Homo sapiens: one gene and its partners. The protein of the gene in region 1 interacts with the protein of each later gene in a pairwise test. Each region holds a gene or a part of one and is shown in the gene's direction. Other genes may lie near its edges.

Region 1 (3,500 bases):
TAAGTCTGTCTTTCCTTTGTGGATAATTTGTTATTTATCTACCCCTATCCATATACAGGCTCACACTTATTCACTCCTTCCCTGATCTAGTCCTTGTAAAGGTTTTTTTTTTTTTCCTTGAGTTTTGAGATTCAGGTATTAGGGTTTTTTTCTGTGTTTTTCTTCTTTCTCCCCCACCCAAGGCTATTGGATGAGTCCTTCTGAGAAATCGGCTGGGGAAATTTTCTTATATATTTTTAAAATTAATGCTCTATTCCCATCATCTTTGCTCCATCTTTCTGGAAGTACTAATAAATGCATATTAGATTTTCTAGAATCAATTGTTCATGTATCTTTTTTTCTTATAACTTACATTTATTTACTACCTTTTCCTAAAATATAGAGAATTCCCAGGTTAATTTAGTTTTCAGCACTGTCTTTTCTTCCTTTTGGTGTATCTTGGCAGCTTTTTGGGACACACAATTTTTTATTTCCAAGTCTTTCTTGTTCTTGAACTATTCTGTTTTTTTTTTTTTTTTTGGTGAGAATCTGTTTTAGCAATTTAACCTCTTGAATCTCACAACCAGTAGGAATTAAGTATTTTTTGCAAAGTTTGTCTCTACTGTTTTCTGTGTTATACTTTGTGTTAGTGCAGAGTGTTTGGTGTAACTGGCTATCCTTTTGGAATCTTTTTGTTATTTAATAATTTTTAATTGTTTACACATTTTTAGAAAGTATTCGTTTCCGTATAGGATGATTGTATGGGTCTTCTTTCACCCCGTTAGTGGGCTTTTCAGTGTGCCACTTGGCAGTGAGTCATACAGTGACATGTGGGGTGCAAGTCACTGAGCCGTTCCTAATTTTAGATATCTTGTTTAATTTTTCTCCTTTGTAGTCAATGGAAATATTTCAGTCAAAATTAGAAGATGCTGAAAAAGCTGCATCCACGAAAGAAGATTATAGACGGGAACGGTGGAGGAAACCCACATATTCAGATAAAGCACAAAATTGTCAAGAAAGTAGAGAATCAGACTTAGTAAAATATGGTAACAGTTCAAGGGATAGATATGCTACAACAGATACTGCAAAAAATAGCAATAATGAAAAATTTATTGGTGATGAAAAAGATAAGAGACCTGGGTCTTTAGAAACGTGTAGAAGAGAATCTAACCCAAGGCAAAATCAAGAGTTTTCTTTTGGCAATTTGAGAGCTAAATTCTTGAGACCCTCTGATGATGAAGAACTGTCATTTCACAGCAAGGGCAGAAAATTTGAACCACTTAGTTCATCTTCAGCATTGGTAGCTCAGGGCTCTTTGTGTAGTGGTTTTAGAAAACCCACCAAGAACAGTGAAGAAAGATTAACATCATGGAGTCGCTCTGATGGGAGAGGAGACAAGAAACATTCAAATCAAAAGCCATCGGAAACCAGTACTGATGAACACCAACATGTTCCAGAAGACCCAAGAGAAAAATCACAAGATGAAGTCTTGAGAGATGACCCTCCAAAAAAAGAACATCTACGGGATACAAAGTCTACATTTGCTGGGTATTTTATCATTTTTTAACCTAATAAGTTAAGATCCAGAGAGTTCAAAGAACAGAACTGTATTTTTAGAACATCAGTTATTAGCTGTGACTATGATCTCACATTTCTTAAAATTGATAGAAGGGGTAAGATATGCAGATTTAACAGGCAGTATTGTGGTATGGATTGCATTTTATTTCATAGGTTTTTTTTTTTTTAAGAGCTGAAAGCAGTAGCTATATTTGTTCAAAATATGTTGCTGCTTTGCAATTTAAAAAACTGAATGAGTTAATGTTTTAAATGTATGTGCTGCAGGAGATATTTTGGTAGATTTTGTTACCAATGCCATTACTTTCTAAGGAAATTATCTTATTGTTGAGTATAATCATAATCATAAATACTGCATGTCTATAGGAAGTCTAGGAGACAAAAGGAAAACACGCTGCCACGGCCCAAATATAAAGTGACAAATACATGCCAGAGATCTTGCAGAGGGGAGCATGAATTATGGTTGTTATTTTGCACAAAGAAAGAAATAATCCACTTTGGGCAATTGACAGATTTTAAAGATAATATTAGAGTTTTAAATATAAAATATATGTTGCATTTATGTAGGGCTGGGTTAGAAGATGAGGAAACCCAGGTTGAATGGGACTAAACCTAAGAAAATTTGCTTTAGAAATTTGCTGGCCCTGTTGGAGATAGCCAGAAAAAAAAGTGTCCAAAGGGTAACAACTTACACGTGAATGATCATTAAAATATGTTTAAAAATAGCACCAAATGAGTGGGACACTAAAGGAAGAGGTTTTAGGAAATAATAGAAACACATGGTTGTAGTAGATAAAAGCACTGTGGTTTGGGGTTGTGAGTCTGATAAATCACTTTTGTTAATGACTCCATCTGAAGCAGTGGATTATAAAACTCAGTGTGTAATTTTCGGTGGGAGGGAGCTGGCAAAATCTGAACTGAGTGATTAAGCCCCAGTCAAATGGACTCTGGTTCACATCAGGGCTTTCCTCCCAGGAAGTGGAAGGAGAAATCCAATTGTATTGACTAAACAAACATGGCAGGGATTATTGTCTAAGGCTGTATGCATATGTAATTGTCCAGTCTTCACTCCAGGTGCCCTGGGTGGTAGACTATTTCCAGTTCCCAGTCACTAGGGGAATGAGGCTCTTATTTCCTGATATCATTAGGATTGGGTTAGCATTTGGATGATCTGTAGGCCTTCTTCTGTGACTGTAGCTAAGCAAAATGTCTGCAAAGTAATACCACACGATTAGTATTCCAACCGGTTGTCTGATTGCTGCATATTTGTATGTCTTATTTAAGTTGTAAGCTTCTGATAGATACACTATAATACAGGCACTCACTAAAAGCTGTGTATGTATATAATTTTTCGGTTTGAAGACAGCACTCACTAAAAGCTATATATGTGTGTATATATATGTATGTATACATGTAATTTTTCCTTTGAAGACAGTATTCTTTGTTCGCTGTGTTAATTTGATGGTACAGAGGGTTTGAGGCTTTCTATGAATTCTGTGACTGGCTGGAGAGGGAAAGAAAAATCTAGGAATCATCCAAAAAAAAAGATTCCTGAGAATGTAGAGTGGTTGTAAAGTAGGAGACCAAGACAGGACCTTGAAGAATGCCTAGTTGTTACAAATAATCTTTGTCTTATAAGTGAATGGTCATGATTGGAAAAATTAGTTGAATTAGTTTTTACTTCTTTGTATGTATTGTTCATATATCTTTACCTTTCTTGTTATTTACACCAGTATTATTTTTTAGAACATGCCATTTGTAATCTTAATAAATGTATATGTATAAAATTTAAACAATATAGACAGAAGAGTATAAAACAAGAATATGAAGCATAGGTGAGTATAAAATGAAAAAGTAAATCTCCCTTTCATGTCACTTCCAACCCTAATCCTATTTGCCAGGTTAACAGTGTTGGTAGTGTCTTTCCAAATTTTTTAGTGTATTTG
Region 2 (3,500 bases), on another chromosome or scaffold:
CCATTAACTCGTCGTTTACATTAGGTACTTCTCCTAATGCTATCCCTCCCCCATCCCCCCACCCCACGACAGGCCCTGGTGTGTGATGTTCCCCTTCCTGTGTCCAAGTGTTCTCATTGTTCAGTTCCCACCTATGAGTGAGAACATGCAGTGTTTGGTTTTCTATCCTTGCGATAGTTTGCTCAGAATGATGGTTTCCAGCTTTATCCATGTCCCTACAAAGGACATGAACTCATTCTTTTTAATGGCTGCATAGTATTCCATGGTGTATATGTGCCACATTTTCTTAATCCAGTCTATCATTGATGGACATTTGGGTTGGTTCCAAGATTCTGGTATGTTGTGTCTTTGTTCTCATTGGTTTCAAAGAACATCTTTATTTCTGCCTTCATTTTGTTATTTACACAGTAGTCATTCAGGAGCAGGTTGTTCAGTTTCCATGTAGTTGTGCGGTTTTGAGTGAGTTTCTTAATCCTGAGTTCTAATTTGACTGCACTGTGGTCTGAGAGACAGTTTGTTGTGATTTCTGTTGTTTTACATTTGCTGAGGAGTGCTTTACTTCCAACTAAGTGGTCAATTTTTGAATAAGTGTGATGTGGTGCTGAGAAGAATGTATATTCTATTGATTTGGGGTGGAGAGTTCTGTAGATGTCTATTAGGTCTGCTTGGTGCAGAGCTGAGTTCAAGTCCTGGATATCCTTGTTAACCTTCTGTCTTGTTGATCTGTCTCATATTGACAGTAGGGTGTTAAAGTCTCCTATTATTATTGTGTGGGAGTCTAAGTCTCTTTGTAGGTCTCTAAGGACTTGCTTTATGAATCTGGGTGCTCCTGTATTGGGTGCGTGTATATTTAGGATAGTTAGCTCTTCTTGTTGAATTGATCCCTTTACCATTATGTAATGGTCTTCTTTATCTCTTTTGATCTTTGCTGGTTTAAAGTCTGTTTTATCAGAGACTAGGATTGCAACCCCTGCTTTTTTTTGCTTTCCATTTGCTTGGTAGATCTTCCTCCATCCCTTTATTTTGAGCCTATGTGTGTCTCTGCACATGAGATGGGTCTCCTGAATACAGCACACTGATGGGTCTTGACTCTTTATCCGATTTGCCAGTCTGTGTCTTTTAATTGGGGCATTTAGCCCATTTACATTTAAGGTTAATATTGTTATGTGTGAATCTGATCCTGTCATTATGATGTTAGTTGGTTATTTTGCCCATTAGTTGATGCAATTTCTTCCTAGCATTGATGGTCTTTACAATTTGGCATGTTTTTGCAGTGGCTGGTACTGGTTGTTCCTTTCCATGTTTAGTGCTTCCTTCAGGAGCTCTTGTAAGGCAGGCCTGGTGGTGACACAATCTCTTTGCATTTGCTTGTCTGTAAAGGATTTTATTTCTCCTTCATTTATGAAGCTTAGTTTGGCTGGATATGAAATTCTGGACTGAAAATTCTTTTCTTTAAGAATGTTGAATATTGGCCCCCACTCTCTTCTGGCTTGTAGGGTTTCGGCCAAGAGATCTGCTGTTAGTCTGATGGGCTTCCCTTTGTGGGTAACCCGAGCTTTCTCTCTGGCTGCCCTTAACATTTTTTCCTTCATTTCAACCTTGGTGAATCTGACACTTATGTGTCCTAGGGTTGCTCTTCTCGAGGAGTATCTTTGTGGTGTTCTCTGTATTTCCTGAATTTGAATGTTGGCCTGTCTTGCTAGGTTGGGGAAGTTCTCCTGGATAATATCCTGAGGAGTGTTTTCCAGCTTGGTTCCATTCCCCCCATCACTTTTGGGTACACCAAACAGACATAGATTTGGTCTTTTCACATAGTCCCATATTTCTTGGAGGCTTTGTTCATTCCTTTTTACTTTTTTCTCTAAACTTCTCTTCTCGCTTCATTTCATTAATTTGATCTTCAATCACTGATACCCTTTCTGCCACTTGATCAAATCAGCTACTGAAGCTTGTGCATGTGTCACATAGTTCTCGTGCCATGGTTTTCAGCTCCATCCGGTCATTTAAGGTCTTCTTTACACTGTTTATTCTAGTAAGCTATTCATCTAATCTTTTTTCAAGGTTTTTAGCTTCCTTGTGATGGGTTTGAACATCCTCCTTTAGCTTGGAGAAGTTTGTTATTACCGACCTTCTGAAGCCTACTTCTGTCAACTCGTCAAAGTCATTCTCCATCCAGCTTTGTTCTGTTGCTAGTGAGGAGCTGCGATCCTTTGGAGGAGAAGAGGCGCTTTGATTTTTGGAATTTTCAGCTTTTCTGCTCTGGTTTCTCCCCATCTTTGTAGTTTTATCTTCCTTTGGTCTTTGATGATGGTGACCTACAGATAGGGTTTTGGTGTGGATGTCCTTTTTGTTAATGTTGATGCTTTTCCTTTCTGTTTGTTAGTTTTCCTTCTAACAGTTAGGTCCCTCAGCTGCAGGTCTGTGGGAGTTTGCTGGAGGTCCACTCCAGACCCTGTTTGCCTGGGTATCGCCAGCAGAGGCTGCAGAACAGCAAATATTGCTGCCTGATCTTTCCTCTGAAATCTTCATCTCAGAGGGGCACCTGGCTGTATGAGGTGTCAGTCGGGCCCTACTGGGAGGTGTCTCCCAGTTAGGCTACACGGAGGTCAGGGACCCACTTGAGTAGGCAGTCTGTCCGTTCTCAGAGCTCAAACACCATGCTGGGAGAACCACTGCTGTCTTCAGAGCTGTCAGACAGGGACATTTAAGTCTGCAGAAGTTTCTGCTGCCTTTTGTTCAGCTATGCCCTGCCCCCAGAGGTGGAGTCTACAGAGGCAGGCAGGCCTCTTTGAGCTGCGGTGGGCTCTACCCAGTTCAAGCTTTCCTGCCGCTTTGTTTACCTACTCAAGCCTCAGCAATGGCAGATGCCCCTCCCTCAGCCAGGCTGCCACCTTGCAGTTCAATCTTGGACTGCTGCGCTAGCAGTGAGCAAGGCTCCATGGGCATGGGACCCACTGAGCCAGGCATGGGATATAATCTCCTGGTGTGCCACTTGCTGAGACCATTGGAAAAGCGCAGTGTTTGGGTAGCAGTGTCTGGATTTTCCTGGTACAGTCTGTCACGGCTTCCTTTGGCTAGGAATGGGTAATCTCCCTACTCTTGCACTTCCTGGGTGAGGCAATGCCCCACCCTGCTTCGGCTCGCCCTTTGTGGGCTGCACCCACTGTCCAACCAGTCCCAACGAGATGAACCAGGTACCTCAGTTGGAAACGCAGAAATCACCTGTCTTCTGCATCAGTCACACTGGGAGCTGCAGACTGAAGCCTTTCATATTTGGCCATCTTGGATGCCCTTGGGTTTATTTTTAAAAATGCATCATTATAGTCTTGTTTTTCCCCTTTACTAGTTAGAAAATTATATACTTCTGTTCAGTTCTTCAGTGGATGTCCTAGAAATTCTCAAGCATCCTTAACTTATACAAAAGCCCAGTGTTAACAGATACCTTTACCAGTGTCCACCTCCATTGTAAACAAACTTAGAACACTGTTACTCCATTTACC
Region 3 (3,500 bases), on another chromosome or scaffold:
ATCCATTGATGGAATAGGCTACCCCGAAAGGCAGAGAGCATTTTGTCATTGGAAGTATGTAGGGCAGTGTGGATGACTCTAGGGTGACTGTCATGAGGGTTCTGCACTGGGGAGGGGGCTGCGTTGGATGATGAATGGGAACCCTTCCAGTGCTAAGATGCTGTGATCGTTGTCCTGCAGGATTGGGATTGTGCAGGATTTGAGCTACTGTGTAAATTTCCTATTCCCTGCTCATTGGGCTTCCACATTTTGCTTCCTTCCCTTGCCCAGGTGGTTCCATTTCAGGAAGCCTAGATAGCTTCTTTGCAGTCATCTGCCCGAATGTCGTAGCTACTTTAACTCCCCAGAGCTGTACATGTCTAGGATTGATATTGATCATTAACACAATTATGTTCGCCCAGATGAACAAATCTACCAGGAGTAGAAACGTGCATTTGACAGGTGGCCTTGCATGGAGACTAATCGCTTTCACAGGTTGAAAGGTGAAATATCTAAAGTTTAATGAGTAAGTTGTGTCCTGAATGTGGAATCTGAGTTGAAATTGCATTTTGTGACATGTACGCCTACCTAACTTTTCTTTTTCATACCTGTCATCTTTTTTTTTTTTTTTTTGAAACGGAGTCTTGCTCTGTAGCCCAGGCTGGAGTGCAGTGGCGCAGTCTTGGCTCACTGCAACCTCCGCCTCCCAGGTTCAAGCAATTCTTCTGCCTCAGCCTCCCAAGTACCTGGGATTACAGGCATGCCCCACCACGTGCAGCTAATTTTTGTATTTTTAGTAGAGACAGAGTTTCACCATGTCGGCCAGGCTGGTCTTGAGCTCCTAAACTCAAGTGATCCGCCTGCCTCGGCTTCTCAAAGTGCTGGGATTACAGGAGTGAGCCACCGCGCCTGGCCTGTACCTGTCATCTCTTGGTTTGTGAGTGGATTGATTATTGGACTTTATTTTTAACACAGGAGAATGTGCGTGTTTTGCATTTGTAGTGAAAGCATGCCTCATCTTACTCCAACACTGATAGGAAAAGGAAGATTATTTTACAATGGTCAAGTGAAAAAAAAAGTAAATACAGAGATAAAACGGGGTTCTAATATTTCTGCTACACTGGAAACTTAGAGTTGCAAGAGCTGTTTTGGGATCACAAATCTTCTGAAGAAAAAAAGTTTGCGTATTTCAGTACAAGTCTTAATGTTTCCCTAGCGTCTTGTGTTATAGCTGCAGGCCAAGCAAAATGAAATGTGAGACACTGTCCTTGGGGATAGAGCATCTGTATTCAATTTAAACAGTAGATTTGGGGGCCTTAAATTGCCTCGACTCTATTAATCATTTTGTGTTCCTTAGTTTATAGAATTATCTCCTAGAGACATTAACTTATCCATTAATTTCTTCCATTGTGTTTATTTATTCATTCACAAACACTAGCACCTACTGTATACACAGTACAGTGTTGTACATTGCAGGGTACTTAAAAATGTAGAGTGCCAGGCATGGTGGTGCATGCCTATAGTCCCAGCTCCTTGGAAGGCTGGGGCGGGAGGATTGCTTGAGGCCAGGAGTTCAAGGTGGCAGTGCGCTATGCTTGTGCCTACAAATAGCCACTGCACTCCAGCCTGGACAACATAGCAAGACCCTGTCTCAAAAAAAAAATGAAAAAACTCCCCCAAAACCAAAAATGTAGATTGTTCTCAAGGGCCATCCAGTCTAGAGAGAACTAAGGGAGCCTGGTATTCTTAGGCCTTAGAGCTTAACAGCCACACCTAGGATGCCTCTTCAGAAGGTGTTCCAGCCCTTCCTGTGTCTTCCCAGTTCTGATACTGGATTATGTCATTATGTCTCTGTTGAGTAACTCCTTCCAATCAGGCCTGCACACTGCTGCCAGGACAGTCCTCACAAAGCACAGATCTGATTGGGTTATTGTTCCTCTGTGGAAGGGGCTTTCAGAGACTCATTATCTCCCCCCAAGCAAATTCTTAGCATCTCTTTTCAAGCTTTCCATACACTGGCCCTTAAACACTTAAAACGGACACTCTGGCCTTTTTATTATGCACATTATTCTGCCCACCGAGAATATTACAGAATCCGTCTTTCTTGCTCCCAATCTGAACGCATCAAAATGTCATCCCTCATTTACCACCTAGCAAATCAATAATGCTTCTCAGCCTTCCCTGGTTCTCTGGAATCGTCTGCTCTCTCCTTCTTCTGTTATAGTTTGTTATGGATATAACCTGTTTTTCTGACTCCAATGTAGACTTCTTCAACTCAAGGTTTCAGTTCTGGTTTATCTCCTTACTCCCTCATCTATGTAGTACACTTATGGTTTACTCTGTTCTCACTGGATTAGACCAAACTCTTAATTATATTTAGGATGTATTAATCCAATGCATAGATTAACCAAGTCTATTATTTTTATATCTTTTGAAACCAATCAGGAGTTTCAGAAGTTCAGTTCAGTTTAAATATTTATTGAGATGCATACACTATATAGTCAGATACTATGATAGCTCTTGAATATAAAAAATATATATACTTATGTTTGTATATATATGTGTAAATTGATATGTAAATTCAAATAGATAGTGTTGTCTACACCATTGAGAAGCCTATAGTCCCGTGGAAAAAAGAGAATTCATTCTCATGAAGTTTCCGGATATTGTTTCATCAGAAGGACTGGGCACATCGGGGTGTACTAAAATCATTAAGAAGTATTTAGCACCAGTAGATGCCTAATAAATACCTTACAGTCTAGATGGATGGATAGATGGAGGAAGAAAGAAGGGCTCCTTTAATTTATAATTTACCTATTGCTGGGTTTACTCCTAGGTATGACAATTTTGAAAACAATTTACTCAATGTTTATTTCCACACTGTGTATGAAATATGCTGCTCTTCATTCAGAAAGAGATATATAATTCTCCATTTGTAGAACACTGAGTTAATTTCATGGTTGTGATGTTGCTTTTGCTTACTTTCACCCACATTTTCTCCTCTGTAGGGTGGCAGCTCCGTAGGGTGGACACACGCTTTGGGAGACCTGCAGCTGTTTGTGTCTGGGGGCAATGGTGAAGGGCAGTGACTCATTGGCCCAGAACTCATGATCTCATCTCTCACCCAGCTGGCTAATCGGCCTTGGGGACAGGAGGATGAGCGCTGCACTCCCTCCTAATCATGCAGCTTTTGTATGTCTTTCTTTACTTGACTTAAATTGTAATTTGAATGGAAAAATGGACAAATTCTATCATTTGAATTTAACTTTTATATATTTTCTTGACTCTGATTTGGGATTATCTAAGTGCATTTATTCAAATATTTATTGTGTTTTTGAAACTTTTTTTGAAAAGCATAAGGTAATACATGATAAAAGATATTGTTATTACCCCTGTTTCTGCCATTTCAAGGAGTCAGAACAGGCTCAGTGGAAACAAAATGAGATGTCTTATGGGAGTTACTTTCCCTTCAGCTAATCTTGGTATGAATTTATATTGACACTACCTTTAAAATTTTATTC
Region 4 (3,500 bases), on another chromosome or scaffold:
TATTGCATGCAACTTATGGTTGGGCGGAAATGAAAATGAACATTTAAGGGTGTTAATTTTTCTGCCTCTTCCCTTCTAGGATTGTATTATTATTCACTGTTGATTTTTAAAGGAAAATTTCAACCATTTAGGGCAGCAATTTTCAGAAAAGAATTTTCTAGTTAGAAATACTACAAAGATTCTAGTAAAGACTTTGTGGCCAAGCTTAACTAAGGCCAGTATTTCTGAGCCAGTCAAGATTCAGATTGCAACTAGTACATATTTTTCTGATGTTTTACTTTAAGTCGTTAAAGAGTTCATCAAAAGGTGTGATGCTATTAAAGCCTAGATCTTTTTACATCTTTTGCACTTTGTGTGGACTGGGACTGTTTTTGCCAAGAATGCATGGAATGGGGTAAAATACAATAAAGCAAAGAATCTGAGTCATGGGAAACTTCAGGAAGTACTCAAAGAAAGCTGTTGGAAGCAGTTAGCTCTGCATGTAAATATAACCTCTACTGCTAGGGTTGCTATATTTTTCCTGTAAAGAGCCAGATAATAAATAATTTAGGCTTTGTAATCTCTGTCAGATTTCTCAGCTCTCCCATTGTAGTGCAAAAACAGCCATAGACAATATATGAATGAATGAACATGTCTAATTTTGTCTTTTTTAAAAAACCCAGGAACTTGGATACGATTGGTGTTGCTGTTGATTTGATTCTTCTGTTTCGTGAACTGCGAGTGGAACAGGAATCTCTGTTGACAGGTAGCATGCAATATAATTCATGGATTATTTATATCTTTATAAAGGGTTCAAAACCAGTACTTTGAGTATTAACATCATTCATTGAAACACATGTTCTGTATTTCATGAGATAGGGAAACTTTAATAGTGAATTATTAAAGAATTATAAAGTTGTATCAACTTCCCTTCCTGAATGGCTGAATTTTGTTCCTTTCACATTTGTATGTTGAAGTCTGTCTGTTCCAGTTGCTATAACAAAATGCCTTAGGCTGGGTAGTTTATAAACAACAGAAATGTATTGCTTACAGTTCTGGAGGCTGGAAAGTCCAAGATTAAGGTACCAGCAGATTGGGTGTTTTGCGGGGGCTGCTCTCGTCTTCATAGATGGTGCCTCTTGCTTTGTTCTCCTGTGGTGGAAGGTGGAAGGCAGAAGGCATAAACAAGCTCTCTGGGCCCCTTTTATAAGGGCACTAATCCCATTCACGAGGGCTGCACCATCATGACCTAGTCACTTCCCAAAGGCCCCATCTTATACTAGCAAGTTGGGGATTAGATTTCAGCATAGGAATTTCGGAGGGGCACAGATATTCAGATCATAGCATGGTCCTAACCCCCAATACCCAGAATGTGACTGAATTTGGAGATAGGATCTTTAAAGAGGTAATTAAGGTAAAATGAGGGTATATGACTGGTATCCTTATAGGAAGAGGAAATTAGGACATGGCCATGCTCAGAGTAGAGACCATGTGAAGACACAGGGAGAAGATGACCATCTACAGGCCAAGGAGCGAGACCTCAGAAGAAATCAGCCCTCTCGACACCTTGATCTTGGACCTCCAGCCACCAGAACTGTGTAAAAATAAATGTCTGTTGTTTAAGCCATTCAGTCTGTGGTAAGACTTTTAATATTTATGAATGTGACAGGCCCTGGTCCAGGTTTTGGGTGTGATTCAAACAGTGACCAAAACAGACAAAAAGTGTCTGTCCTTAGAGAACTCACATTCCGTTGAGGGGAACCACATGTTAAGTGTCTAAGTCAAGTATCTAGTGTGATGAAAATGGAACTTAGCTCTGATTGTTAACGGTTGTTGACTTGGGATTAAGAGAAACACCACACTTCTTTAGACTCATTAGTAGAATGGTTTTGGTCTTTGTTCTTCTAGCATCAACATCTTTCCTTTGGACAGTGGTTATTATCTTAACATAATGTTTAAAAAAAAAACGTAGATTTTTAATTTATGATCTCTTTGTGCCAGGAATTGAAATACTTTATGGGTAAACCTAAATTATTTGATAAAAAAATCTTAATGTAGGCTGGGTGCCGTGGCTCATGCCTGTAATTCTAGCACTTGGAGAGGCCAAGGTGGACAGATTGCTTGAGCTCAGGTGTTTGAGACCAGCCTGGGTAACATGGTGAAACCCCGTTTCCAAAAAAATACAAAGGCTGGGTGCAGTGGCTCAAGCCTGTAATCCCAGCACTTTGGGAGGCTGAGGCGGGCGGATCATTTGAGGTCAGGAGTTCAAGACCAGCCTGGCCAACATGGTGAAACCCCCTCTCTACTAAAAATACAAAAATTAGCTGGGTGTGATGGCGCATGCTTGTGATCCCAGCTACTCAGGAGGCTGAGGCAGGAGAGTTGATTGAACCTAGGAGATGGAGGTTGTAGTGAGCCGAGATCGTGCCATTGCACTCCAGCCTGGGTGACAAGAGTGAAATTCTGTCTCGAAAAAAAAAAGAACCGGGCATGGTGGCACACGCCTGTAGTCGCAGCTACTTGGAGGCTGAGGTAGGAAGATTGCTTGAGCCTGGGAGGTGGAAGTTGCAGTGAGCTGAGATCACGCCGCTGCACTCCAGCCTGGGTGACAGAGCAAGACTCTGTCTCAAAAAAAAAAAAAAAAAAAAAAAAAACAAAACCCCAGAAAATTTTAATGTAAATTTCCAGGTGGATAAGTTAGATGTACTAAATTATAGGTTAAATTTTGTTGTTGTTGGCTGGGCGCAGTGGCTCACGCCTGTAATCCCAGCACTTTGGGAGGCTGAAGTGGGCGGATCACGAGGTCAGGAGATCTACCTGGCTAACACGGTGAAACCCCGTCTCTAGTAAAAATACAAAAAATTAGCCGGGCATGGTGGTGGGCACCTGTAGTCCCAGCTACTGGGGAGGCTGAGGCAGGAGAATGGCATGCACCCAGGAGGCAGAGCTTGCAGTGAGCCGAGATTGCCGCCACTGAACTCCAGCCTGGGCGACAGAGCGAGACTCCACCTCAAAAAAAAAAAAAAAAATTGTCATTGTAATAACGTCTTTACCTTATAATTCAATGAATATAACCTTTAAATGAGAAGTCTCCAGTTGCATTTAAAATATTATTTGACTTACAAATTGTTTTATATACAGTTTTAATGCCTGTACTTTGCATATAACATGAGGCATATTTCTTTTTTTTTTTTTGAGATGGAGTCTTACTCTGTCGCCCAGGCTGGAGTGCAGTGGTGCGATATTGGCTCGCTGCAACCACCGCCTTCCCGCCGGGTTCAAGCGATTCTCCTGCCTCAGCCTCCCGAGTAGCTGGGATTACAGGCGCCTGCCGCCGCACTCGGCTGATTTTTTGTATTTTTTTATTAGAGATGGGGTTTCACCTTGGCCAGGCAGGTCTTGAACTCCTGACCTCATAATCTACCCACCTCGGCCTCTCAAAGTGCTGGGATTACAGGCATGAACCACCGCACCTGGCCACGTGAGGCATATTTCTATTGATGTTAATATGTGTGCTTCTC
Region 5 (2,425 bases), on another chromosome or scaffold:
GCAGCTTCTGCTGGTAAAGGGGGTCAGGAGGGGACCCCCAAACACACTGATCCTGGGGGGGAGGAGAGGTCTCCCACATGGCACAGATGGGGCCACTGAGGCCCTCAAGAGGAAGTGTGTGTCCCCCAACAGCAAGTGTGGACAGCAGAAGGAAGAGGCAGGGCCCAGCATGGAGAAACCCCATTCTAGTAGGACTTCCAGGGGCCAGTGTCCCCAGAAGGGGAGGGGTCTATGTCTCACCCTGCTCTTAGCGTCCACAGAGACCCTGACCCCCACCCCCGAGCGGAATGAGGGTGTCTACACAGCCATCGCAGTGCAGGAGATACAGGGAAACCCGGCCTCACCAGCCCAGGAGTACCGGGCGCTCTACGATTATACAGCGCAGGTGAGGCCTCTATACCCCAAACCCACCTGTGCCACCTCCCCTGCACCTGAGAGCTCCCTCTCCCATCCAGTGCCTTGCGTCCTCATCTCTCCTCATGGTTTCACTCATCTTCGAGCATCCTCTCCTCCTCAGGAGGGCACGTGTGCCCGAGTGTGTCCACACTAGCAAGGGTACCTGGGAGTGTGCTTGGATGTGAGCTCTGAGAACAGCACCCAGGGCTTGCGGGGCCTCAGTGTGCATGTACTGACTGGAAGCTGGTGTGCAGCAGGCCTGTGTCTGCCCGGGCCTGTACACAGCACACACGTGGAGCACATGTACCTATGCCGTCCACACAGGCTGGGCGCTGAGTGGTGCACACGTGCGGGGAGCTGGCAGAGCCTGGAGCTGCCTGCAGGTCATAGCTTGAGGGCCAGGCTCTGTGCCTTTGGGTCAGGGCCCTGTCCTTCGTGGCCATGGGTGTGGAAAACTGTGGCCAGAATGAGTCTTGCTATCGTGCCAGGATTGATTTTCTGATGTCCATAGGGTGAGGATGAACCAAGGCAGCCACAGGGCAGCTATGAGAGTCCTTTCTGCTCCCTGCTTGAGGGGAAGAATGCATAGCCAGACCTCACATCCACCTGGACTGAGGCCAAGCACCCCCACATAGCCAGGCAGGCTGGGTGTGGACTCCACTGATGAGGCCAGGGCTCGGGGAGGCAGGGAAGCCAGGCCAGGAGAGTGATGGGGTACTTGGATGGCAGTGGCTAGCTGGGGCTGGGGACCGCAAAGGGGAGGCTTGTGGTAAGCTTAGGCATGAGTGTGCCCTGGGCTTGGGGTATGATGAGCACCCGTGACCCCTGACATGCTCCAGTCACTGCGTCTCCAGAATGGGAGAGGGGAGGTGAGGCTGGGAAGAAACCCAGGTTGGGGGAGAACTATGATGACAAACTGAGGGGGATGGGAGGCCCGGTCCGTTGGGTTACCCCCATCCTGTGTCCCCAAGGGGCTGCCCCTGCCCACCCTGGGAGACATGCCGCATTTACTGCTGGGTGGGGGAACGCCAGGCCCCTCCCTGCAGGCCCTTCCCTGCAGGCCCTTCCAACGTCATGCGCTTTCAATCTCTTGGCCAGAACCCAGATGAGCTGGACCTGTCCGCGGGAGACATCCTGGAGGTGATCCTGGAAGGGGAGGATGGCTGGTGGACTGTGGAGAGGAACGGGCAGCGTGGCTTCGTCCCTGGTTCCTACCTGGAGAAGCTTTGAGGAAGGGCCAGGAGCCCCTTCGGACCTGCCCTGCCAGTGGAGCCAGCAGTGCCCCCAGCACTGTCCCCACCTTGCTAGGGCCCAGAACCAAGCGTCCCCCAGCCCCGAGAGGGAGCCTGTCGTCTCCCAGGGAATAAAGGAGTGCGTTCTGTTCTCCTTGGTGTGCTGGGGTCCCGTTCTCTTTTTCTCCTGCTCCAGTGTCCGAGTGCTCAGTTCAGAGGAGGCAAAGGAACAAGGGAAGGAGCCTGGATGTGGAGCTCCCCAACTCAGCCGAGGCTTCAGCTATAGTTGGAGAAGAGGCCTGGCCCCAGTTGCTAGGAGCTCCCAGACTGCCAAGGAGACACATTCACACCTGGACAGAGGACACAGGGGTGCAGGAGGATGTGGCAGGGGCAAGAAGGGGCTCAGCAGGGCTGCAATGGGGAGAGCAGGCTTCTTGGGGGCGGAGGGTTGAGCAGGTCCATGGCTGGGCAGCAGTGGCCAGGCCAGGGCAAGTGCGTGGGCAAAGGTGAGGTTGGGGGTACACCCAGGAATATTCGGAGGACTCAGTTTGGAAACAGGAAGCTGGTGATGGATCTGTTGGAGAGGCCATGGTGGGAGCCCAGGAAGACAGGCTTGTGGCTTGTGGGTGCAAGTGGGGCCTGGGGAAGCCACTGCTGCCCATGACACTCCCCTCAACATGGCAACCCCGGCCGAGCAGGGGTCCACAGCCCAGGCACGTTGGCCCCGGGCACAGAGGGAGCTGTTCTTGAAGGCCTTCAGCCCCTTCTCTTTTTAGTCCCAGGAACATAACTTTCAC
Region 6 (3,500 bases), on another chromosome or scaffold:
CAACCTAGGCTAAAAAGCGAGACTCTGTCTCAAAAACAAACAAACAAACAAACAAACACAATAAAGTAGGATGTAGCTAGGATAATGGAATGTCTACTTGGCATTTGCTTTAGAGAATGAAATTTATCATATGTCAGTTCTTTCTTTATAGCTTGTCAATTCAAAAGGTTTAGTCCACTCCATGTTGAAATTAGAGCAAATGTTGCCTCCACAGAATTTGAATTAATGACATTTCATTGGAATACCAACCTTAATTGCATAATATATTTCAGTGTTTCCACCTTGTCCATGAGCAAGTACGTTCTGAACTAAAATGGGATAGCAGTCTCTTCACTGGTAGCTCAAGCAATTTGTGGAAACCAGACTTCAGGGGCAATCACACATGGAGGCTGCCCCCAGGGGAGAAGAGAATTGGATGGAGCATCGTGGGAAGGAGGGGAGCGAAGGGAGGCGGAAGACGGAGACAGAAGACAAGCAGAGAGGGAATGTGTGTGTTAGCTAACAGCTAAAGCTAATTGATCTAATCAATCCAGCAGAGAGGTGATTTTTCTTACTAAGTGACAGGCCAAATCGGTGTCTGAACAGATGTGATGTGGGTTGCGTCCAGCACCTGGAACAAAGACAGCAAAGAGCTGCCCCATGGAGATCGCCAATAGATGTGCTTCATGTCAGTTAATCATTGTGGGAGAAGATAGGGCTGCCTTCAGGCCAGTGCCAGAGCACATGCACACACATGCACACACGCACACATACACACATACACACGCACACACACGTATCCATTTCATTCATCCACTCTCATTGTCTCTCCCTCTGAGACGTGCTTTCTTGTGATACCCAAACTCACAAGCCCAAGTACATCACATTACACAAATCTTCAGAGACTCCCAAGATGTCAGGACCCGGGAGATCCACACCTCTGCCTACCTGGGCTGGCCAATCTGTGGCATGGTCTGAGGTGAGCTCAGACAGCCCCCTCCCCGATGCCATGCCTGGGGCAGTCTTTAGGTGGCCACGAACCCATTAGAGTTACAGATCCTCTGGAGGAAGAGGATGGGCCAGTCTAGGTGAGACTTTCAGCCTAAGAGGGGTACAAGAACTGGGGCCCCTCAAGGAGGTTGAAAGTGGAGGTGAGATGGGGTTGGGAGTGGGCATTGTTCTCAAACCCTCCCATTCCTGTGCATGAATCTGACCTCACAGAATAACCTCTCAGGTGGCTGAGGCCATCCCCGCCCAAGGCATCAGGGCAGGGCTGTGCACTTGGCTCCCTGGCCTGTTGGCTTGGGGGACATTTTCACTCTTCTTGCTGCTGCAGAGCCATTTGCTGCTAAATCACCCTCCTCTTGGCACCATGGACTGCTAAATTGGTCTCAACTTGCTGTACTTCCACCCACCACCTTAGTCATTATTCGCTGGCAGCATTCAGAGAGTGGGTGTAAGGCAGCCGAACATTATATTCCTGCTGTAAAGAGGGAGAATTGAGTATAGACATGCAAGGAGAGGGGAGAGAGGGAAGGAGGGAAGACAGCGTGAAGGAGGCAGGGAAACAAGGCCTGGGGTTTGCCAGCACCTTTCCCTGGTGACCCCAGTGACACTGGATTGGGGGGGCATTATAGGTGAGTGGGTCCTGGCTCAGTGGGAGGAGACAGAGGGGTCCACCTGCTACTGAGTGTCTTCCCACCCCTGGTCTGGAGGCAGGAAAGGACATTAGCCATGGGAAGAGAAGGGTTCTGCCCTCTGTGAACTCCCTGTTCCTTGAATTCTACAGTGTATAACGTACTTGTCACTCCCATTTGAGCACTTGTTCCCATGTATTCATATTTAGCTTTTTATCTCTATCCTCCCTCCCAGCATAGGTTATAAGCCCCTTGAAAGAGAATGTGTGTCCCGCATCTGATATATAGCACCAGGCCTTAGGAATGGTCTAGGGCTCGGTCCCAAATGGCAGAGATGGATGGCGCTAAGGCCCACAGTGCTTCTTTCTACCCAGCCACTTCAGATCTCTCTGTGCCACTCAAGGGCCACAGAAATTGGAAAGCCAGGCAAGCAAGAGGAGATGGAATCACAAGGGAATCTACAGGGCTTGGTCTGCAATCTCAGTGGGAAACTCCAGGGAGGGAAAGGGTTACACTGCAGAACAGACCAGCCAGGAAAGCAGAAACTTAAGAGACCTGTGGTCCTTGTGCAGAAGGCTGGGGGTGATCTCCACCTGGCACATGGGCTCTCCTGATAGCTCATCCATTGCCCAATGCCCAGGCATGGTGCCGGGGCTGGCAGGAGGTAGGAAGCAGAATCGGTTCTCACATCGGGCAGCAGTGACAGCGTCAGGCAGGGCAGACTGACCTTGACAGGAGGCTCCCTGAGTCACTGATAACATTTGTTTGGGCACCCAGGGAGAGGTTAGAAAGGGAACTCATGCCATCCCAAGCTGGCTTGGGACCTCTTGGGGCCCCCAACCCAGGCTCCTTGCCTCCCACACTCTGCTTGGGGGAGATAATAGGAAAATGCCAAGAACAGAAGCCTCCCTAGCTAGGGAGATGGGGAGACTCTTGAGGGATATGGGGATGAGCCCTGAGGCTGCCCTTGACCTTCCAGAGAGGCAGCCCCATGCCTGGTGTCTGTAGGTACCTGTGTGGGGTCTGCCCTCCCCTCTGTCTCCCATGGTCATCCCCAGCAGAGGTCCAGAAGGACAATCTACACACTCAGGGTAGCTTCCCTTATTTATTGCAACCTTCAGACACTCCAGCTTGAGCTCTTCCCTGCTCCCCGCCACCCCCAAAGGGCATTTCCACAGTGCAAGGGGAGGAGGGAGGGAAGCATGGACTGGACAGCGCACACATCTTGAGGAGACAGCCTCCCCCTCCTTGCCTATCAAATTCCCCCAGCCCCAACGCCTCCGTGGCCCCAGCAGACAAACCACACTGCAGGCAGGTGGGGAAAATGAGAGGAGCCAGGCGGAGCCCCCAGCCTCCACCTGCACTGTAAAGCGAGCCGGCCCCTGAAGGAGGCCTGGGAAGGACTCCCCAGCTGCCTTCGGCTCCTCCCCTTGCCAGGCCCGCAGCTGGCCCTGCTCAAAGGCTGTGCAGCCGGCTGGTGGCTGGTGGGGCAGGTGTGGGCAGGATGCGTGGCTATTCCCAAGACAGGATTTCTTCATCTATCAAACTAGAAGCACCAGGCATTTGGCTTCTCTGGGCTTCCACCAGTACCTCGGACATCTGTTGACTTAGAAACTTTTTCTTGATGTTGGACTTACTTCTATTCTAGAGCCGCAGACAGGACCTCCAACTCTAGGGTCCTAAGATTTGTCAGGACACAAAAGAGCCTGTGCTGAAAAAACTTCAGATACTCTACATGCAAACACAACACCTCAGGGTTGAAAGGATGCTTAAAAACCACTCTATCCATATCCTCTCCCTGTCTCCCCTACACACACACAAATACTCACTGCCAAGAACTTTTATTTCACACCTCAGGAACCCAGTTCTTTCCATTTTCTTTTT
Region 7 (3,500 bases), on another chromosome or scaffold:
CTTTAGGTATGCATTAGGCATCAAAGATTAAGATTAAGAATGATGTAAGATCAGGTGTATAGTGGGGAGGTCCAGGAATAGAAAACTTTGTACATGTGTCCTGACTATATGGTACAATGCAAGGTGGTAGAGATGACAGGGGCTGGAGGTAAGGAGTGTGGTCTGGGTCTGGTTTAGGGATGTCTGGGTCTCCCTTGTAACTCATCCCACCCCTCCCTGCTAACCAGGGCAATTCTGGAGGCTCCAGTGACAGAGCCCAGGTTCTTGGAGCAGCTACAGGAGCTGGATGCCAAGGCAGCCGCAGTCAGAGAGCAGGAAGCTAGAGGCACAGCAGCCTGCGCAGATGTCAGAGGCGTGCTCGATCGGCTCCGGGTCAAGGTGGGAAGTAGGGATGGATACCCTGGAGGCTACTGGAAGCAGCCTTCCCAAGATCTTCACTATGGATTTCCTTGGCAGAGCTCACTGTAGCCTGTCTCCAGGGACTTCACCCTGCCTTTTCTGGGCAGCCCCATTCTTGTCTCTCTGGGTTTCCCTGAAAATCTTGAGAAATACCAAAGAGATATTCACCACCCTTCTGCCTATGTTTACCATTTGTTGCTTCCCCCAGTTCCTCTCATACAGCAAAAGGGTTGCAGCTTCATGCCCTGTGTTTGGTTCCCCACATCTAGGCAGTGACGAAGATCCGAGAGTTTATCCTCCAGAAGATTTATTCCTTCAGGAAACCCATGACCAACTATCAGATCCCCCAGACGGCCCTGCTGAAGTACAGGTCACAACCCCAAGGAAGTGCATGGGATGGCCTTTGAGTTTTTGAGCGGCCTAGTGTGGGCATCTGGTTTCTTGGGAGACAGGTAGACTGACATGTTCCTGACCCCCTAGGTTCTTCTATCAGTTTCTGCTGGGCAATGAACGAGCAACAGCAAAGGAGATCAGGGATGAATATGTGGAGACGCTGAGCAAGATTTACCTGTCTTACTACCGCTCTTACCTGGGGCGGCTCATGAAGGTGCAGGTAAGGTCAGGAGGGAGAGGTATTCCTGGGCACATGGACTGGGAGGAGGGGACATCCCTGGGCAAGGAATATTTTATTGTGTTGTGGGAAGAGACGGTTATCAGTTCTCTTTTCTCTTTCCTTAGTATGAGGAAGTCGCTGAGAAAGATGATCTAATGGGTGTGGAAGATACAGCAAAGAAAGATATCCTAGTACTGGGGAACCCTCATGCCAGGCCTTGAGAGTGGGAGGACTTTCGACTCCAGCCACCAATGCACTGCTCCTTACCTTTTCCTATGGGACTGAAACCTTTTAGAATGTGATGAAAGCTATAGCCTCCCTCCCCAGAAAGATGCACACATTATTTTGACACATAGTTTTGCATATGATTGCAAGGGAGGGAGAGACACCCTGAAGCCCATTCACAGATGTCAGCACGTGGGGCCCTAGTACTGGGAAAGAGGGCTGGCTAGGCCACGTCTGCCTGTCTGGGGTCCCCACAGATAGTGAGTCTTTGGGCCCAGTTATGGTCTCATTGTTTTCCCTGACTCTGACCCATCTTACGATTCTTCTCAAAGCCATCGCTCCGCAGCAGGAACACCATTTTCACCCTAGGAACCCGCGGCTCTGTCATCTCCCCCACTGAACTTGAGGCCCCCATCCTGGTGCCTCACACAGCGCAGCGCGGAGAGCAGAGGGTATGAGGAGGAACAAGCTTCAGTCACGAAAGAGGCTCTGAGCACGGTGGGGAGGGAAGGCCAGACCTCAGGGCAGAGCTTCCCAACCTGCAGGCCCTGTCTTAATCCCCTTAGACTTGGGAGTGGCCTTCTCCAATCACTCCAGCCTGCTGTGATGTGAAAAGAGCTGGGAACCATTGACTTAAGGGCATGCAGAGGGGAGAGACTGGATGAGGGGAATGACAGTCAGAGGCAGGTGTTGAGGTGGATGCAGGAGTAGCAACAGCAGGTGGGTGTAGGCCCTTTTTGTACCCCTATGTTCCCCCACCTTTTCAGTGCCCATTCAGCTTGCTCTTAGACAGCCCGGACCTAGATAGATGCGAAGGGTCTGCCTAGCTCTTATTACTCAGGTTTACTGATTTTCCAGCCATATCCATGGGAAGTCAGTGTTGGGGTCCATCCCTTCTGTTTTTCTTCTTTACTCCTCCTCTCCCAGTATCCATTTGAGGCCCTCTTCCGCAGCCAGCACTACGCCCTCCTAGACAATTCCTGCCGCGAATACCTTTTCATCTGTGAATTTTTTGTTGTGTCTGGCCCAGCTGCACACGACCTGTTCCATGCTGTCATGGGCCGTACACTCAGCATGACCCTGGTAAGACTCCTGTTTCCTGTACCATTCAACACCTTTGTCCCCAGTCTTCATCAGCAGCATAGTGGGGTCATGACTCTGGTAGAACTGAAATCAGGATCGCCTCATTCTAAAATGTCTAAGCCTTGGCTGGGCGTGGTAGTGCACACCCATAATCCCAGCACTTTGGGAGTCCAAGGCAGTAGGATTGCCTGAGCTCAGGAGTTTGAGACCAGCCTGGGCAACAACCTCATCTCTACAAAAAATGAAAAATTAGCCGGGTGTGTGTTGATGTGTGCCTGTGGTCACAGCTACTAAAGATGCTGAGGTGGAAGGATTGCTTGAGCCCAGGAGGTCAAGGCTGCAGTGAGCCATGCACTCCAGAGTGAGACCTGTCTCAAAAAAAAAAAAAAAAAAAAATAGCCAGGTGCAGTGGCTTACGCCTGTAATCCCAGCACTTTGGGAGGCTGAGGCGGGAGGATCACAAGGTCAGGAGTTTGAGACCAGCCTGACCAACATGATGAAACCCTGTCTCTACTAACAGTACAAAAATTAGCCAGGTGTGCGCGGCCTGTAATCCCAGCTACTCGGGAGGCTGAGGCAGGAGGATTGCTTGAACCTGGGAGGAGGAGATTGCAGTGAGCCAAGATTGCGCCATTGCACTCCAGCCTGGGTGACAGAGCGAGACTCCATCTCAAAAAAAAAACTTGTTACTTAGACTTGTCACAGTGTTACTCCCCCATGAAATCCTCAGTGCGTAGGGTCCCTGAGACTACCCCTACTGCTGACCCACAATCAGGCAATAGCACGTGAAAACTGAGGGTCCCCCAAATCTTGGTGCTCAAACCCCTGACCCAAGCTCAGCCCTGAACTCTGCTGTGATAGGCTTGTGATCATAGATCCTGGTGTGGCCAGGTGCAGTGGCTTATGCCTGCAATCCCAGTACTTTGGGAGACCAAGGCAGGAAGGTTGCTTGAGGCCAGGAGTTCGAGACCAGCCTGGGCAATGCGGCAAGACCTTGTCTCTACAAAAAATTTAAAAATAAACTTAACCAGGCATGGTGGTACACACCCATGGTCCCAGTTGCTTGGCAGGCTGAGGTGGGAACATCACTTGAGCCCAGATGTTTGAGGCTGCAGTGAACTATGATTGTACCATTACAATCCAGCCTAGGTGACAAAACAACCTGTCTCTAAAGCCGAAA

Evidence for each region.
Region 2: the proteins of CWF19L2 (region 1) and CEP70 interact in binary tests that used the Homo sapiens proteins (3 or more experiments, as listed by UniProt).
Region 3: the proteins of CWF19L2 (region 1) and DISC1 interact in binary tests that used the Homo sapiens proteins (3 or more experiments, as listed by UniProt).
Region 4: the proteins of CWF19L2 (region 1) and ATXN10 interact in binary tests that used the Homo sapiens proteins (3 or more experiments, as listed by UniProt).
Region 5: the proteins of CWF19L2 (region 1) and PSTPIP1 interact in binary tests that used the Homo sapiens proteins (3 or more experiments, as listed by UniProt).
Region 6: the proteins of CWF19L2 (region 1) and LZTS1 interact in binary tests that used the Homo sapiens proteins (3 or more experiments, as listed by UniProt).
Region 7: the proteins of CWF19L2 (region 1) and VPS52 interact in binary tests that used the Homo sapiens proteins (3 or more experiments, as listed by UniProt).

What each region holds. Positions count from the first base shown.
Region 1 is NC_000011.10:107,426,826-107,430,325, reverse strand, and holds part of CWF19L2 (CWF19-like protein 2), read left to right. Parts: intron 1-874; coding exon 875-1,527; intron 1,528-3,500.
Region 2 is NC_000003.12:138,573,761-138,577,260, reverse strand, and holds part of CEP70 (centrosomal protein of 70 kDa), read left to right. Parts: intron 1-3,500.
Region 3 is NC_000001.11:231,633,290-231,636,789, forward strand, and holds part of DISC1 (disrupted in schizophrenia 1 protein), read left to right. Parts: intron 1-3,500. UniProt on the Homo sapiens protein: Involved in the regulation of multiple aspects of embryonic and adult neurogenesis. Required for neural progenitor proliferation in the ventrical/subventrical zone during embryonic brain development and in the adult dentate gyrus of the hippocampus.
Region 4 is NC_000022.11:45,692,334-45,695,833, forward strand, and holds part of ATXN10 (ataxin-10), read left to right. Parts: intron 1-662; coding exon 663-745; intron 746-3,500. UniProt on the Homo sapiens protein: May play a role in the regulation of cytokinesis. May play a role in signaling by stimulating protein glycosylation. Induces neuritogenesis by activating the Ras-MAP kinase pathway and is necessary for the survival of cerebellar neurons.
Region 5 is NC_000015.10:77,035,551-77,037,975, forward strand, and holds the end of PSTPIP1 (proline-serine-threonine phosphatase-interacting protein 1), read left to right. Parts: coding exon 1-13; intron 14-251; coding exon 252-385; intron 386-1,494; coding exon 1,495-1,626; 3' UTR 1,627-1,925; downstream 1,926-2,425. UniProt on the Homo sapiens protein: Involved in regulation of the actin cytoskeleton. May regulate WAS actin-bundling activity. Bridges the interaction between ABL1 and PTPN18 leading to ABL1 dephosphorylation.
Region 6 is NC_000008.11:20,293,964-20,297,463, reverse strand, and holds part of LZTS1 (leucine zipper putative tumor suppressor 1), read left to right. Parts: intron 1-3,500. UniProt on the Homo sapiens protein: Involved in the regulation of cell growth. May stabilize the active CDC2-cyclin B1 complex and thereby contribute to the regulation of the cell cycle and the prevention of uncontrolled cell proliferation. May act as a tumor suppressor.
Region 7 is NC_000006.12:33,265,377-33,268,876, reverse strand, and holds part of VPS52 (vacuolar protein sorting-associated protein 52 homolog), read left to right. Parts: intron 1-227; coding exon 228-378; intron 379-668; coding exon 669-769; intron 770-879; coding exon 880-1,012; intron 1,013-1,137; coding exon 1,138-1,195; intron 1,196-1,555; coding exon 1,556-1,689; intron 1,690-1,803; coding exon of another isoform or gene 1,804-1,869; exon of another isoform or gene 1,870-2,145; intron 2,146-2,164; coding exon 2,165-2,320; intron 2,321-3,500. UniProt on the Homo sapiens protein: Acts as a component of the GARP complex that is involved in retrograde transport from early and late endosomes to the trans-Golgi network (TGN).